Regions from separate parts of the Homo sapiens genome. Here region 2 is linked to region 1. The links come from fine-mapping of genetic effects on gene expression. A gene starts in region 1. The other region holds a variant in brackets. All regions are shown on one strand. Distances are between the middles of the regions.

Region 1 (8,149 bases):
TGCACAGGAGGTACAGGAGGGGTACCTTTCAAGGGAATGATGAATGAAGACAGCGCTTCTAAAAATTAATGTGTATAGAAACCATGTGGAAACCTTACTAAAACGCTTTCTGGATTTAATTTCCAAAATGTCTCATTCTGTGATCTGGAGTGGGCCTGGAAATTGCATGCAGGTGACAGGAGGAAGGTGGTCCACAGGTCACACTTTAGGAAAGACAACTTCAAAAAGAGGATGAGTCAGGTGGATCTACCCTCTTTTGGATCTTGGTCTGGGTAGGTTGAATGTGACTTTGTTCCATCATTTGGTAAACTGATTTTGGACAGATCTTAAACTCTAACAACCTTGGCTTTGAAATGACCCAGCTTGTCAGGCAGGCTGTGTCATTGGAGGGAAGAGCTCCACTGGAAGATTACTAGTGTCAGAAAGAACCAACTTCCTCTATCTCCCTACTGCTGGGGCCCACATAGGATACAGGAACATCCCCACCCTAAGCCGTGGCAACTCGAGTGGCAGACGGTAGATGAGGAGGACTAAAGAAATGTGTAGAAAGAGATTTCCCACAGGAACAAATCATAAAATACATGTAAGTGCTGGGAAGAATAGCTCACCAGTATAATGGATCAAGTGGTGTTTTCACTTCTTTCGTTTTTAAAATTTTGTATGAATCACATCTTAATTTTAATTTTGTTGTATAGTTATGTAAAATATTTACATGGTTTCAAAGTCACATCTATAAAATAAGTATGTTCAAAGAAGTCTACTTTTTAACCCTGTTCCCTCTACTCTCTTCTCTTCTTTCCTTTACAGAATTTAAAAATATATTTATTTTATATATAATAAATATATAAATTTATTACATATAATAAATATATCTATTACATATAATAAATATATCTATTACATATAATAAATATCTATTACATATAATAAATATTTATTTATTACATATATATTTTTATATAAATATAAATATATAAAAATAGATATATATTTATTATGTATTTTTATATATAAATAAATTATATAATTTATTACATGTGATAAATATATATAATTTATTACATGCAATAAATTATATAATTTATTACATGTGATAAATTATATAATTTATCACATGTAATAAATGTATATAAAATAAATATATACTAAATAGAGGTGGGGTATTGCTTCGTTTCCCAGGTGGTCTCAAGCTCCTGGCTTCAAGTGATCCTCCCACTATGGCTTCCCAAAGTGCTGGGATTACAGATGTGAGGTACCATGCTTGGCCAAAATATTTTTTAATTGTTTATTCTTCTATTTAATCATAAGCAGATGTGTGTGTTTGTGTGTGTGTACATATATGTGTATATATGTGTGTGTATATATGTTATATATGTATATATAATTGTATATATACATATATGCACACACACACAAAGGGCTAATATATGTATATATACATATACACACATCTGCATACATATTTATATATGTATGTACACACACACACATATACACATACAAATATATTAGCCCTTTCTAGAATACACATTATATATATTTTCTCCACCTTAAATACACTTTCTTGACATTGCCACTATATAACATGATCTCTGTGGAGAAATGCATTTTGAGTTTGCACTAACCAAATAACATAGTTTTAAAACACAGGCTCTTTATAATTTAGTACTCATATCAACTTTGTTCAATAATTCATTCACTCAATAAACATTTACTAAATAACTATGATGGGCCCAGGGGCAGTTCCAGGTTTTGTGAAATCTAAAGCCCCTGTTAAATGGCTTTATATAGGCCCCTCTATAAAGCCCCTGTTATATAGGCCCTCTCTTTAATAAAAAGAAAATAAACTCGTGAATGCACTCTAAACTATCAGTAACCACCTGCCTTTTTTTTTTGACAGAGTCTCACTCTGTAGACCAGGCTGGAGTGCAGTGGCACGATCTTGGCTCACTGCAACCTCTACCTCCCGGGTTTCAAGCGATTCTCCTGCCTCAGCCTCCCGAGTAGCTGGGACTACAGTAGCCCACCACAATGCCCAGCTAATTTTTGTATTTTTTTTTTAGTAGAGATGGTGTTTTACCATGTTGGCCAGGCTGGTCTTAAACTCCTGACCTCAAGTGATCCGCCCACCTCGGCCTCCCAAAGTGCTGGGATTACAGGCGTGAGCCACTGCGCCCGGCCCAACCTACCATCTTAGGCGCCCGTGCGAACTTTTCCAGCTTCATGGGTAATTGGCTTCTACACGGGCCTGTTATGGGAACTGTGCTTGTGGCTGTTGCACAAAGTGGACAGGACCCCTTGTTTTATGGAGCTTATACTGTAGTACAGGAGAGAGATGCTAAATATATACACTTGTCATAAATATATAATTATAAATTGTGTTTAACTCCCGGTTATGGGCTGAACTGTATTCCCTCAAATTCATGTTGAAGTCCTAAGCCCCAGTACCTCCCAAAATGACTGTGTTTGGTGATAGGGTCTTTAAAGGGGTGATTAAGTTAAAATGAGGTCATTAGTATCTTCCTTAATCCAATAAGACTGGTATCCTTATAAAAAGAGGAGATTAGAACACACCCATATAGCGGGGAAGACCATGTGAAGACATAGAGAGTAGACAGTCATCTGCAAGCCAAGGACAGAGGCTCAGAAGAAATCAACGCCACCGACGCGTTGATTCAGACTCCTAGTTTCCTATATTTCTGTTGTGTAAGCCACCCAGTCTGGTATTTTGTTATAGCAGCCCTAGCAGACTCAAACAACCCCCTAGGAGAAAAGAGTGTGTGAGAGAAAGTATTGTCAGAGGAGTGGTGAGGATGCTGGTCAGAGAAGGCATCACCGATGGATGCATAGAAGCTAAGATATGAAAAGACTAAAAATGATGAACTACGAGGAATAAGCAGATTAGCAGATGCTGTTAAAGGGTGAAAGAAATCAAGATGCTTTTGCTTCACTTAATTATCCCACAGTCTACAGAACCAGGTAGTTCTCGAGAGAAAATCTTTCTAAATTAACTACCATAGATGAAAGGCTAATCACAGACTCTGAGGTGCTGAAGAGCAGGAAGTTTAATTTTTAAGTGGAAGACAAAATGTATTTGATATCATTCACATCCTGATTTAAGGATAAGACATTTCTGAAGAAAATGAGTATTATGAATTACGTAGATCAAACACTTTTTAGAAAAAGAATAAAGGGAAGTTATGCTCTTCCTCATGGCTCATTAAAGAGATTATGGAAATTACAGAACCTGAATATGCAAAACAAAGAAAAGCCAGAAGCATAGACTCTAATTAGTCAAGGATAATTCCTTATATGAATTGCCTTAGTGCAATGATTCTAAGCCCCTTATACCACATTGGAACCACTTGAGAAGTATTTTAATAATACCAATGCCCAAATTCCATTACCAGAAATATAACTGATCTCAGGTGGAACACAGTTATGGCAATTTAAAAAGCACCCCAAAAGATGTTAATGGTCAGTCAATGCATTTCTTCCAGGTAAGGTACCAATAGACACTGAAGCCCAGTAACAATGGTGCTGTTAAATGATGGGACACAAAACTCGAAGAGAAGTTCAAAGTGATAGTTATAGCCTGTGAAGGACTCTAGTGAAGTCTTTTGTCTTTACTTAGGCCATGGTAAGCAAAGACAAAAATCTGAATGACAAAATAACAAGTAAGGTTACCTAGATCCATCCCTGGCCACCTTGTGAGGCTTTGTTGCTTTCCCACTAATCCTAGACACAATCCAGCTCTCTAAACCCAACATCTCTCTGACTTAGATCCATAGCCTCTTTGTGCTACCCTTCTGTTCATTCTCAGTCTACCCTGGTCCATAGTCCAGGGTCCAGTCGTAGTCTATAGTCCAGGACCAGAGTCCTGGTCTATAGTCTAGTCATAGTCCACAGCCGTAGATTATGGACCTATGACTTAGATCCACAGCCTCTTTGCGCTACCCTTCTGTTCATTCTTAGCATTTGTTTGGTGCTTTCCACTTCTGTTTAACACTCTGTTCTCAACAAACCATTTTCCTGATTGGTCAAAAGCCCTTTGATGTCTATTCCTATCTTTGTCACATGAATCATTCCCTATTCCTCTCAACTGTATTCTCTAGTTAATAAAAGATACAATTTGATCCTAACACATTTCTATTATCCAAATGACTTTCATTTCTGCTTTCTTGTCTTATAGTCAAAAAACAACACATTTCTTTCCCTGTTCCATATATATTCTATCATTCTCTTGGATAAAGAAAATTGAACTATTCTTATTTTAAATCAGTGATCAGAACATAATCTGTCATATCATATATTTTTCATACCCAGATATTTATTCAACCATTTTCCTCAAAGACCCAATAAAATAGAGAGCCACAGCCTATCTTAAATTAAAATGCAGGGCTTTATGGGCTATTTGACATGCAATAATTATTTGCAAAGTCTTTTCACCAAACATAGAAATTGCTAATGTCTGACCTTGGAGGAAATGAACTGTACAAAAAATTTCAAGCAAACATGATCCAACTGTTCGCACAAAAGGGAGGTTGCATAAGAAATTCATTGTGTTTCTATCCAAATTTCCCCCTCGAATTGCCACAGATCAGCATGTACTTCACTCTTTGCCACCAATTAAAATCATAAATAGATGAGCTATTCAGCAGAGGAGGGCTGGTGTGCCCTCTCCACAGATGGTCAGCATCACATGTTGCAGTAATGGCTCGACATGCCACAAAGGCACAGTATAAAAACGGTGGGAATCAGAGCACTTCAGCTCCAATTGCTCTATGTTTAGAATTGCCTCTTTTTCAAGATGGATTTCCTTCACAGGAATGGAGTGCTCATAATTCAGCATTTGCAGAAGGACTACCGAGCTTACTACACTTTTCTAAATTTTATGTCCAATGTTGGAGACCCCAGGAATATCTTTTTCATTTATTTTCCACTTTGTTTTCAATTTAATCAGACAGTTGGAACCAAGATGATATGGGTAGCAGTCATTGGGGATTGGTTAAATCTTATATTTAAATGGTAAGATTTCTGTTTTATTTCATTTTTTCCTAAGATTTATCCTTAAATTTGTGACTTCGGCATAATGATCACATTTCAGATGTATATCGTTTTACTTGGAAAATCTTTCAAAAATACCAGGTAACTTGAAACACCAGATTCATAAGTAGAACTTTTAAAAGGCACAGAAATGTATATATATGTTTTTGTTTTTTTTTTTTTTTTGAGACAGAGTTTTGCCCTTGTTGCCCAGGATGGAGTGCAATGGCGTGATCTCGGCTCACTGCAACCTCTGCCTCCCAGGTTCAAGCAATTCTCTCACCTCAGCCTCCCGAGTAGCTGGGATTACAGGCATGTGCCACCACACCCAGCTAATTTTGTATTTTTAGTAGAGACAGGGTTTCTCTATGTTGGTCAGGCTGGTCTCTAACTCCCGACCTCAGGTGATCCACCGACTTCGGCTTCCTAAAGTGCTGGGATTACAGGTGTGAGCCACCACGCCAGGCCAGAAATGTGTACTTTAATGACTTATAAGTAATTCCCAAACCCCTGTAACACATATTCTGTGATTAAGAATTACTTACATGAGCAGCGTGATAATGAACAAATTGATAATTCTAGGGACAAATTTTGATATTTCCAGTCTAAGTATCCAAAGCACCCATAAGACATTCCCTGCAAGGGAAAAAAGCCCCCATGTTCATGGGAAACCAGGGTGCCAAAATACCAAATGGCTACCACCTTTAATAATGTGTGAGAGACCAAGACCTAAGTTTTTTCAAAGTCTCTTAATCATGAACTTTCACAATTAACCCTGCGCTTGAGTCATTTTTTATAGGAAAGAATTGCTAATCTCCAATTAAATAATAGCTGTGTATTTAAATATATATGCATGTTTATAATTCTTTAAATACAGGATATTATTTGGTCATCGACCTTACTGGTGGGTCCAAGAAACTCAGATTTACCCAAATCACTCAAGTCCATGCCTTGAACAGTTCCCTACTACATGTGAAACAGGTCCAGGTAAGCTATTACAGCAGGCTCCAGTTACTGAAGATCTTCCAATAGAGAATCATTACACAGGGTTATCATCTAGGAACTGATATTATATAGGGTAGTAAAGAAAATCTCATGAGTGAGGATGCTAAAACTTCATAACAATCAAAATTACTAATGAGGAAGCAAAGCAAAAAAAATACTCAAATTCCATTTTGTTATTTATGAAAGGGTAGATTGGGAGAAAACTCCCCCAGTGATTAAATATTTGGTGTTTACTTTTCAGAAGAATATAATGACTTGATACTAAAACAAGAAACAGTTAACTAGAACAAATTCTCAAGGAACTAGACTAAGATCTTAGAAATGTTGGTTAATCTGCTGCTAAGCAACTTTCAAAGTTACTATAGGTCTTCCGAGTATCTCACGAATGAGGGAGGAGTAGACAAGTCTTCTGTAAGAAAGGTAAGGACTTCTCAATGTTACTATAGCCAGTAAAGACTATTTCTAACCCTAGAACAATCTCTTTAAAACATATTTTTTCTCTGTACACAAGTAGGCTTCTTGGGCCACTTCTTTTTTATTCTAGGTAAGATTCTGTATGAGTATAAAATCTTTATTGTGATAGTTGATTCTAAGACTGTTTTAAAAAGTTTTTTGAAACATATATTTAAAAATTACATTTTAATTTATAAGAATGTGTTATATTGTACCTCATCATTTTACATAGCATAACATTCTCGCCAGTTGACATCCTTCGAAACTAACTTTGAGTAAAGGGTAGTAGAGAATGTGTAAATTCTTAATGAGTGTTCTGAATATGTCTTTTTTGTTCCCATAGAAGTATACATACATCTGTTATATCGCTTATTACACTAAATGATATTAACTAATTCTTTATATATCCGATTGCCTAGACTGGGTGTTCCATCAGGGGAGGGATGATGCATAGTTTATCTTTGTGAAACCAAAGTGTGATAAATGGATGAATGGTTGGATGGGTAACATTTGAGACCACCGAAATGTTATCGTGGTCAATTCCAGTCCTTTCCGGCATGTGTTCCACCTTATAAGACATTTTCTGGAAAGAGAGAGAGAGAAAAGAAAGAAAGACTGCATCTCTCGGGGAGATTTACAATTTTTTAAGGCATAGTTTTTAAAAGGCTCTGAAAATTCCTGCAGATAAGAAATAGGTCTGTCTTTGTTTAACAAATAAGAGACTGGTATTTAATTTGAATGAACTACCAGGTGAAAAATCGAGGAGGACATTTAAGGAAACTAATAAAAAATTCAGTAGCATGGAAAAGGCATTCTGGAAGTAGAAAGGCTTTTTCTGCTAGGATTAATGCCGTCTTTATAGCTTCTCCTCATCCTCTGTTTTAAAACAAAGATTCTCACTGCAGTGGCCACAAGATAGGCATAGAAGTAGCTGCTAGTACACAGCAGTCATTTGTAAGTCAATCAGCAAATCACTGGCATAGCAATGATATCCTTTAGAGTTTGACTTCTCAGCCCAAGGAAAATAAGCCAACTGAAGATCCAATACAAGCATTAGGGTGGTGCAAAAGTAATTGCGGTTTTTGCCATTACTTTCAATGGCAAAAACCGCAATTACTCTTGCATTAACCTAATACTTTTGCTTGTCAATTAAAAACAACCAAATATTGAAGAATGAGTAGGGCTGTGGCAGATTTGGGTGCAACTGCCTGAGTTCTTAATTAGCCTTGAGTATATTGATTTCTGGAATTCAATGAACCTGAAAATCTGGGAAAAAAATTTTTTGAGACAGTGTTTCTCAGGCTCAATTTAACTCAATTTTTCTTATTTCTACCCACTTCTAAACATTACATATAGCCTGTGTCTTGTCTTTTTTTCTGAGTTACTCATAATTTTCATGGGGAATATGCTATTCTATTATTCATTTCTGATCTTGATAGTTAACCACTTTTCAAATGGACGGACACTTTGTTGTTGCAGGAAGTCCATCTGGCCATGCAATGGGCGCATCCTGTGTCTGGTATGTCATGGTAACCGCTGCCCTGAGCCACACTGTCTGTGGGATGGATAAGTTCTCTATCACTCTGCACAGGTCAGCTTTGCTGCAGTTTCTGTAGCACTGGAATATGACAGTTTTTAATACAGA
Region 2 (8,149 bases), 35 kb before region 1:
ATGTTTTCCAAAACATGCATGCAATTACTATTATTATACAATGATGTTTTTCTCTAGACTTGCTATTTCATGTATTATAATATAGTTTTTGGTTATATAACATATGCAGTCCATACATATAGAAAGTGCATCATAAGTGGTTATTGAATCAAGGAATGAACATTATATAAAATTACAAACTTTCCTTTTGAGAAAAATTTAATATATTGAAACTCTGCATCACACTGTTAAATAACCAAAGAGCTTCAGCTCATATTCATTTGCCTGCTAACACAGCATACTAATTACAGCTTTATCTATTTCAGCCCCTGGTGCAGCCCAGCTCAGCAGCAGACTTTGCAAGGCCTTGTATTCTTTTCAAGCCAGGCAAGATGATGAGTTGAATTTGGAAAAGGGTAAGAATCATTCTCAAATATTTTAATTGCCTTCCCATATTGAGATTCTTAGCATGAATAAAACCCTGTCTTAGTGTGGCAGCCTTAAGAGTTACTACCATGTCAAATCAGTTCACCCTTCTTGAAAGATAAGCACATCTAAAACAAAAGCTCGCATAATGATAATAGCTAACGCTTATTCTGTTTACTGTGTGTCAGACATTGTTGCAGGCCTATTGTCCAATTTAATATTCATGAAACCCTTGGAGGGTTTTATTGGTATTCCCATTTCATAGCAGAGGAGACTGATACACAGGAAGGTTAGGTGCTTTGGCTAATGTCACAGGCTGTGGCAACACAAGATTTGAACTTGGAAACACAGTCATGCTCCTAATCACAGTGCACACTAGGGTAGAATGTCAGTGATGGAAAGTGATTAGAGATGTACCCCACCTTTTTATTTTTTAGAAGCTAGACATTCAGGAATGTGAAGTGACCTCCTCTCTCAACTTAGTGTAAGTAAGTGCAAATTCTAGAACCTAGGTCAGCTGACTCCCAGCTTAGTGCTGGTCTCACTTACTTCTCAGAAAAGCTTTTTACAGCCAGTCTAAAGAGTGAGATCCCCTTCTTTGTGTCACAGAGTTTTACTTAACATGGAAAGGTATTACGTAGTGGCTTTATAATGTAAACCACAACATTATTAAAGAAGAAAGTCTCCAGCCTCAACCTTCTTTATGTGTCCAGTTAGAAACCATGTTTGAATGTTAGCGCTAATGCAGAGATCTGGAAACGGAAGGGTTAGTGAGAAAGAGTAACGTTATGGGAGAAAGAATATTATCCACGACAAGGACATGGCTCCCAGAGCCAATGGAAAATCAAGATACATTTTGTAGCCAAACGACAGGGACACCACACATTTGCTATTTATTGGGTGTTTCCTTTGCAGCATTTGCCAGTCATATCTCTCCAGGCAATTACTTTTCTTCCTATGTGAATAAAAGACAGACATACTTCCCAGATGCCACCTAGAACCCATGGATGCAGCATTTAAGTTACATCATTCACAATAAATTGATTATCTTGTTTTCAGTTCTCTGTTGGTTGCAAAGCCTACTTATACTTTATATTCTAAGCAGTTTCTTTAAATGAAACACGACGTTGGAGCCTTAGGGAAGCTGGCAATACAATTTGAAATCATTATTTGTTTGAATTCTTGTTAATAGATTATGTCAATTTACTGACGAGGGAGAACTTAGAGACCGAGAATAATGTCCTTTAAGAATAGTGATTTATGACTAAGAAAATGTAGAAAAGATAGAAAAGGAGTTAATAATTTCCTTTGTCTTAGAAAGAAAGTTGCTGAGGAAAAGAGTGAAAGGAAGACTGAAAAATCACCTCAGAATGATGCCAAATAAAAAGTAGCTCTTGGATCCTGACGGGGGCAGATGATCCTGAAGGGGGCAGATCTTTCTACTTTTATGACAAGAGCCATGTTTCTTGTCCAATTCTCTATGGAATTCTCTTTATTTGAATCATTGCTTTAAAAAATATTGTCTCCAAATTGATGTTGTATTAAAGTTGTCTAAGTTGTTGAATGGGGAGTTACATTTTGAATGGGGAGTTACATTTCTGTGCAAAGCTGTGAGTGAGTTAAACTTTTGGCCTGTGAAATCAGGGATAATGCAGAGACATTGTCTTGATCTTAAGAAAAGACTGTTGGTGAGACATACTTATAGCAGCCAACACGCCAAACAATCAAAAACACCAGCATGTGAAACCCTCAAAGTACGGACACCAAGAAAGAGTTTGGTGACAATCCATCAGCTACATAGAAATAGAAAGTGAGCCAGGCAGCATAAGGATATATGATCCAACGTGATCTTTTTTTATTTTTTTTTTTGAGGCAGAGTCTTGCTCTGTCACCCAGGCTGCAGTACAGTGGTGTGATCTTAGCTCACTGCAACCTCCGTCTCCTGGATTCAAGTGATTCTCCTGCCTCAGTCTCCCAAGCTCACTGCAACCTCCGTCTCCTGGATTCAAGTGATTCTCCTGCCTCAGTCTCCCAAATAGCTGGGACTACAGGCGTGTGCCACCATGCCTGGCTAATTTTTGTATTTTTAGTAGAGACGGGGTTTCACCATGTTGGCCAGGCTGGTCTCAACCTCTTGACCTCAAGTAATCTGCCTAATCTGCCCATCGCGGCCTCCCAACGTGCTGGGATTACAGCTGTCAGCCACCGTGCCTGGCTGTGATCCTGTTTTTTTTTTTCTGAGACAGAGTCTTGCCCTGTTGCTGTTGCCCAGGCTAGAGTGCAGTGGCATGATCTCAGCTCACTGCAACCTCTGCCTCCCGGGTTCAAGGATTCTCCTGCCTCAGCCTCCTGAGTAGCTGGTATTACAGGCGTGCGCCACCACACCCAGCTAATTTTTGTATTTTTAGCAGAGAAGGGGTTTCACCATGTTGGTCAGGCTGGTCTCGAAACTCCTGACCTTGTGATCCACCCACCTTGGCCTCCCAAAGTGCTGGGATTACAGGCGTCACCCACCACGCCCAGCCAATCCTGTCTTTAAGCAATTATTTTATGATATATCTCAGTTGTTCATTATCTTACTCTTTTTAGTATCCTCTGGATTATGCCTGCTTTATACACAGGTGTTCGATACATTTGGCTTCATCTGAATCAAGTGCAGAAAATGACACTACCAAGTAAATCCTTGAAGCAGAACCTCCTTAAAACTCTTATCAATCGGGCTGAGGCATGTGTTCACATCACAGAGACCCATTTGTCTAACTGTATTTTCACAGGTGACATTGTGATTATACACGAGAAAAAAGAAGGAGG[A/G]TGGTGGTTTGGATCTTTGAATGGGAAAAAAGGCCATTTTCCTGCCGCTTATGTGGAGGAGTTACCTTCAAATGCTGGCAACACAGCTACAAAGGCATAAAACAAGACTCTGAACATACTACCTTCACACTCGGTAATCAACAATACAGTGTGGTTCAAATAAGAATAAAGTGCTCTTACCTTTACATGTTTTTCTTTTGAAATGGATGGAGTTCTACCTGCATGTCACAGCACTTTGCATTCATGATTATTAGCTTGAAACAGTCAGAAAAAAGATGGATGGGTGGAGACAGACAAGGAAGAGGCTCCTTGGTTCCTAGAGGAGTTTCCAAATTCTAGGAGACCCTAGAGATGATCCAGTATAACCCCTGGTGTCACAGAAACAGACGGAGTCCAAGGTGGGTTCAGCTGCTTGCCTGAAGTCAGAGTTATCTGGTAGACAACAGCAGTGGGACTTAGATGTCTTTTTCCTCTGGATTTGGGTGGCAACAGAACACAGCAGGCCTATGAGGGGGTCAAGCAGAGCCTGGGAGATGAGGAACACAGATCAATTCCAAGAAGAGAGACAGGCAATCAAGACACCAATGAGATCAACCCAAATTAGGGGATGGTAGGATATCTCTGACAAACCCACAGCCAATATCATACTGAATGGACAAAAACTGGAAGCATTCCCTTTGAAAACTGGCACAAGACAGGAATGTCCTCTCACCACTCCTATTCAACATAGTGTTAGAAGTTCTGGCCAGGGCAATCAGGCAGGAGAAGGAAATAAAGGGCATTCAATTAGGAAAAGAGGAAGTCAAATTGTCCCTGTTTGCAGATGACATGATTGTATATCTAGAAAACCCCACTGTCTCAGCCCAAAATCTCCTTAAGCTGATAAGCAACTTCAGCAAAGTCTCAAGATACAAAATCAATGTGCAAACATCACAAGCATTCTTATATACACCAATAACAGACAAACAGAGAGCCAAATCATGAGTGAACTCCCATTCACAATTGCTTCAAAGAGAATAAAATACCTAGGAATCCAACTTACAAGGGATGTGAAGGACCTCTTCAAGGAGAACTACAAACCACTGCTCAATGAAATAAAAGAGGACACAAAGAAATGGAAGAACATTCCATGCTCATGGGTAGGAAGAATCAACATTGTGAAAATGGCCATATTGCCCAAGGTAATTTATAGATTCAATGCCATCCCCATCAAGCTACCAATGACTTTCTTCACAAAATTGGAAAAAACTACTTTAAAGTTCATATGGAACCAAAAAAGAGCCCACATTGCCAAGTCAATCCTAAGCCAAAAGAACAAAGCCAGAGGCATCACGCTACCTGACTTCAAACTATCCTACAAGGCTACAGTAACCAAAACAGCATGGTACTGGTACCAAAACGGAGATAGATATAGACCAATGGAACAGAACAGAGCCCTCAGAAATAATCCCGCATATCTACAACTATCTGATCTTTGACAAACCTGACAAAAACAAGCAATGGGGAAAGGATTCCCTATTTAATAAATGGTGCTGGGAAAACTGGCTAGCCATATGTAGAAAGCTGAAACTGGATCCCTTCCTTACACCTTATACAAAAATTAATTCAAGATGGATTAAAGACTTACATGTCAGACCTAAAACCATAAAAACCCTAGAAGAAAACCTAGGCAATACCATTCAGGACATAGGCATGGGCAAGGATTTCATGTCTAAAACACCAAAAGCAATGGCAACAAAAGCCAAAATTGACAAATGGGATCTAATTAAACTAAAGAGCTTCTGCACAGCAAAAGAAACCACCATCAAAGTGAACAGGCAACCTACAGAATGGGAGAAAATTTTTGCCACCTACCATCTGACAAAGGGCTAATATCCAGAATCTACAACGAACTCAAACAAATTTACAAGAAAAAAACAACCACATCAAAAAGTGGGCGAAGGATATGAACAGACACTTGTCAAAAGAAGACATTTATGCAGCCAAAAAACACATGAAAAAATGCTCATCATCACTGGCCATCAGAGAAATGCAAATCAAAACCACAATGAGATACCATCTCACACCAGTTAGAACGGCAATCATTAAAAAGTCAGGAAACAACCCAGGTGCTGGAGAGGATGTGGAGAAATAGGAACACTTTTACACTGTTGGTGGGACTGTAAACTAGTTCAACCATTGTGGAAGTCGGTGTGGCGATTCCTCAGGGATCTAGAACTAGAAATACCATTTGACCCAGCCATCCCATTACTGAGTATATACCCAAAGGATTATAAATCATGCTGCTATAAAGACACATGCACATGTATGTTTATTGCAGCACTATTCACAATAGCAAAGACTTGGAACCAACCCAAATGTCCAACAATGATAGACTAGATTAAGAAAATGTGGCATACACTGCAAAAACATGCCAAAATGTAAAGGCCATCAAGGCTAGGAAGAAACTGCATCAACTAACGAGCAAAATAACCAGCTAACATCATAATGACAGGACCAAATTCACACATGACAATATTAACTTTAAATGTAAATGGGCTAAATGCTCCAATTAAAAGGCACAGACTGGCAAATTGGATAAAGAGTCAAGACCCATCAGTGTGCTGTATTCAGGAAACCCATCTCACATGCAGAAACACACATAGGCTCAAAATAAAGGGATGGAGGAAGATCTACCAAGCAAATGGAAAACAAAAAAAGGCAAGGATTGCAATCCTAGTCTCGAATAAAACAGACTTTAAAACAACAAAGATCAAAAGAGACAAAGAAGGCCATTACATAATGGTAAAGGGATCAATTCAACAAGAAGAACTAACTATCCTAAATATATATGCACCCAATACAGGAGCACCCAGATTCATAAAGCAAGTCCACAATAATAATGGGAGACTTTAACACCCCACTGTCAACATTAGACAGATCAACGAGACAGAAAGTTAACAAGGATATCCAGGAATTGAACTCAGCTCTGCACCAAGCAGACCTAATAGACATCTACAGAACTCTCCACCCCAAATCAACAGAATATACATTTTTTTCAGCACCACACCACACCTATTCCAAAATTGACCACATACTTGGAAGTAAAGCACTCCTCAGCAAATGTAAAAGAACAGAAATTATAACAAACTGTCTCTCAGACCACAGTGCAACCAAACTAGAACGCAGGATTAAGAAACTCACTCAAAACCACTCAACTACATGGAAACTGAACAACCTGCTCCTGAATGACTACTGGGTACATAACGAAATGAAGGCAGAAATAAAGATGTTCTTTGTAACCAATGAGAACAAAGACACAACATACCAGAATCTCTGGGACACATTCAAAGCAGTGTGTAGAGGGAAATTTATAGCACTAAATGCCCACAAGAGAAAGCAGGAAAGATCCAAAATTGACACCCTAACATCACAATTCAAAGAACTAGAAAAGCAAGAGCAAACACATTCAAAAGCTAGCAAAAGGCAAGAAATAACTAAGATCAGAGCAGAACTGAAGGAAATAGAGACACAAAAAACCCTTCAAAAAAATCAATGAATCCAGGAGCTGGCTTTTTGAAAAGATCAACAAAATTGATAGACAGCTAGCAAGACTAATTAAGAAGAAAAGAGAGAAGAATCAAATAGACGCAATAAAAAATGATAAAGGGGATATCACCACCGATCCCACAGAAATACAAACTACCATCAGAGAATACTACAAACACCTCTATGCAAATAAACTAGAAAATCTAGAAGAAATGGATAAATTCCTCGACACATACACTCTCCCAAGACTAAACAAGGAAGAAGTTGAATCTCTGAATAGGCCAATAACAGGCTCTGAAATTGAGGCAATAATTAATAGCTTACCAACCAAAAAAAGTCCAGGACCAGATGGATTCACAGCTGAATTCTACCAGAGGTACAAGGAGGAGCTGGTACCATTCCTTCTGAAACTATTCCAGTCAATAGAAAAAGAGGGAATCCTCCCTAACTCATTCTATGAGGCCAGCATCATCCTGATACCAAAGCCTGGCAGAGACACAACAAAAAAAGAGAATTTTAGACCAATATCCTTGATGAACATTGATGCAAAAATCCTCAATAAAATACTGGCAAACTGAATCCAGCAGCACATCAAAAAGCTTATCCACCATGATCAAGTGGGTTTCATCCCTGGGATGCAAGGCTGGTTCAACATACGAAAATCAATAAACGTAATCCAGCATATAAACAGAACCAAAGACAAAAACCACATAATTATCTCAATAGATGCGGAAAAGGCCTTTGACAAAATTCAACAACCCTTCATGCTAAAAACTCTCAATAAATTAGGTATTGATGGGATGTATCTCAAAATAATAAGAGCTATCTATGACAAACCCACAGCCAATATCATATGGAATGGACAAAAACTGGAAGCATTCCCTTTGAAAACCGGCACAAGACAGGGATGCCCTCTCCTACCACTCCTATTCAACATAGTGTTGGAAGTTCTGGCCAGGGCAATCAGGCAGAAGAAGGAAATAAAGGGCATTCAATTAGGAAAAGAGGAACTCAAATTGTCCCTGTTTGCAGATGACATGATTGTATATCTAGAAAACCCCATCGTCTCAGCCCAAAATCTCCTTAAGCTGATAAGCAACTTCAGCAAACTCTCAGGATGCAAAATCAATGTGCAAAAATCACAAGCATTTTTATACACCAATAACAGACAAACAGAGAGCCAAATCATGAGTGAACTCCCATTCACAATTGCTTCAAAGAGAATAAAATACCTAGGAATCCAACTTACAAGGGATGTGAAGGACCTCTTCAAGGAGAACTACAACCACTGCTCAGTGAAATAAAAGAGGACACAAAGAAATGGAAGAACATTCCATGCTCCTGGGTAGGAAGAATCAATATCATGAAAATGGCCATGTTGCCCAAGGTAATTTATAGATTCAAT

Alleles and levels. Alleles are on the strand shown, and positions count from the first base shown. SD is a standard deviation of normalised expression in the study named.
For the expression in minor salivary gland of the gene that starts at base 4,770 in region 1, A is the low allele of the variant in region 2 and G is the other (large effect, 0.94 SD a copy in GTEx).

What was found. PIP is the estimated chance that this variant, and not a neighbour inherited with it, causes the effect.
Region 2: its variant is fine-mapped to the expression of G6PC2 in minor salivary gland (GTEx, PIP above 0.99). The same link has a PIP of 0.9 or more in breast, lung, stomach and sun-exposed skin.

The regions. Positions count from the first base shown.
Region 1 is chr2:168,896,522-168,904,670 of GRCh38, forward strand. It overlaps G6PC2 (glucose-6-phosphatase catalytic subunit 2), which reads left to right and starts at 4,770. Exons shown (of 5, transcript NM_021176.3): 1 at 4,770-5,028; 2 at 5,924-6,033; 3 at 7,984-8,095. The coding sequence starts at 4,811.
Region 2 is chr2:168,861,655-168,869,803 of GRCh38, forward strand. NOSTRIN (nitric oxide synthase trafficking) reads left to right here. Exons shown (of 16, transcript NM_001039724.4): 15 at 306-395; 16 at 3,180-3,860. The coding sequence ends at 3,316. It also overlaps a transcript of SPC25 not described here. Among named protein-coding and RNA genes, the nearest start is that of SPC25, 25 kb to the right of the region's middle. The variant A/G (reference allele first, on the strand shown) is at 3,217.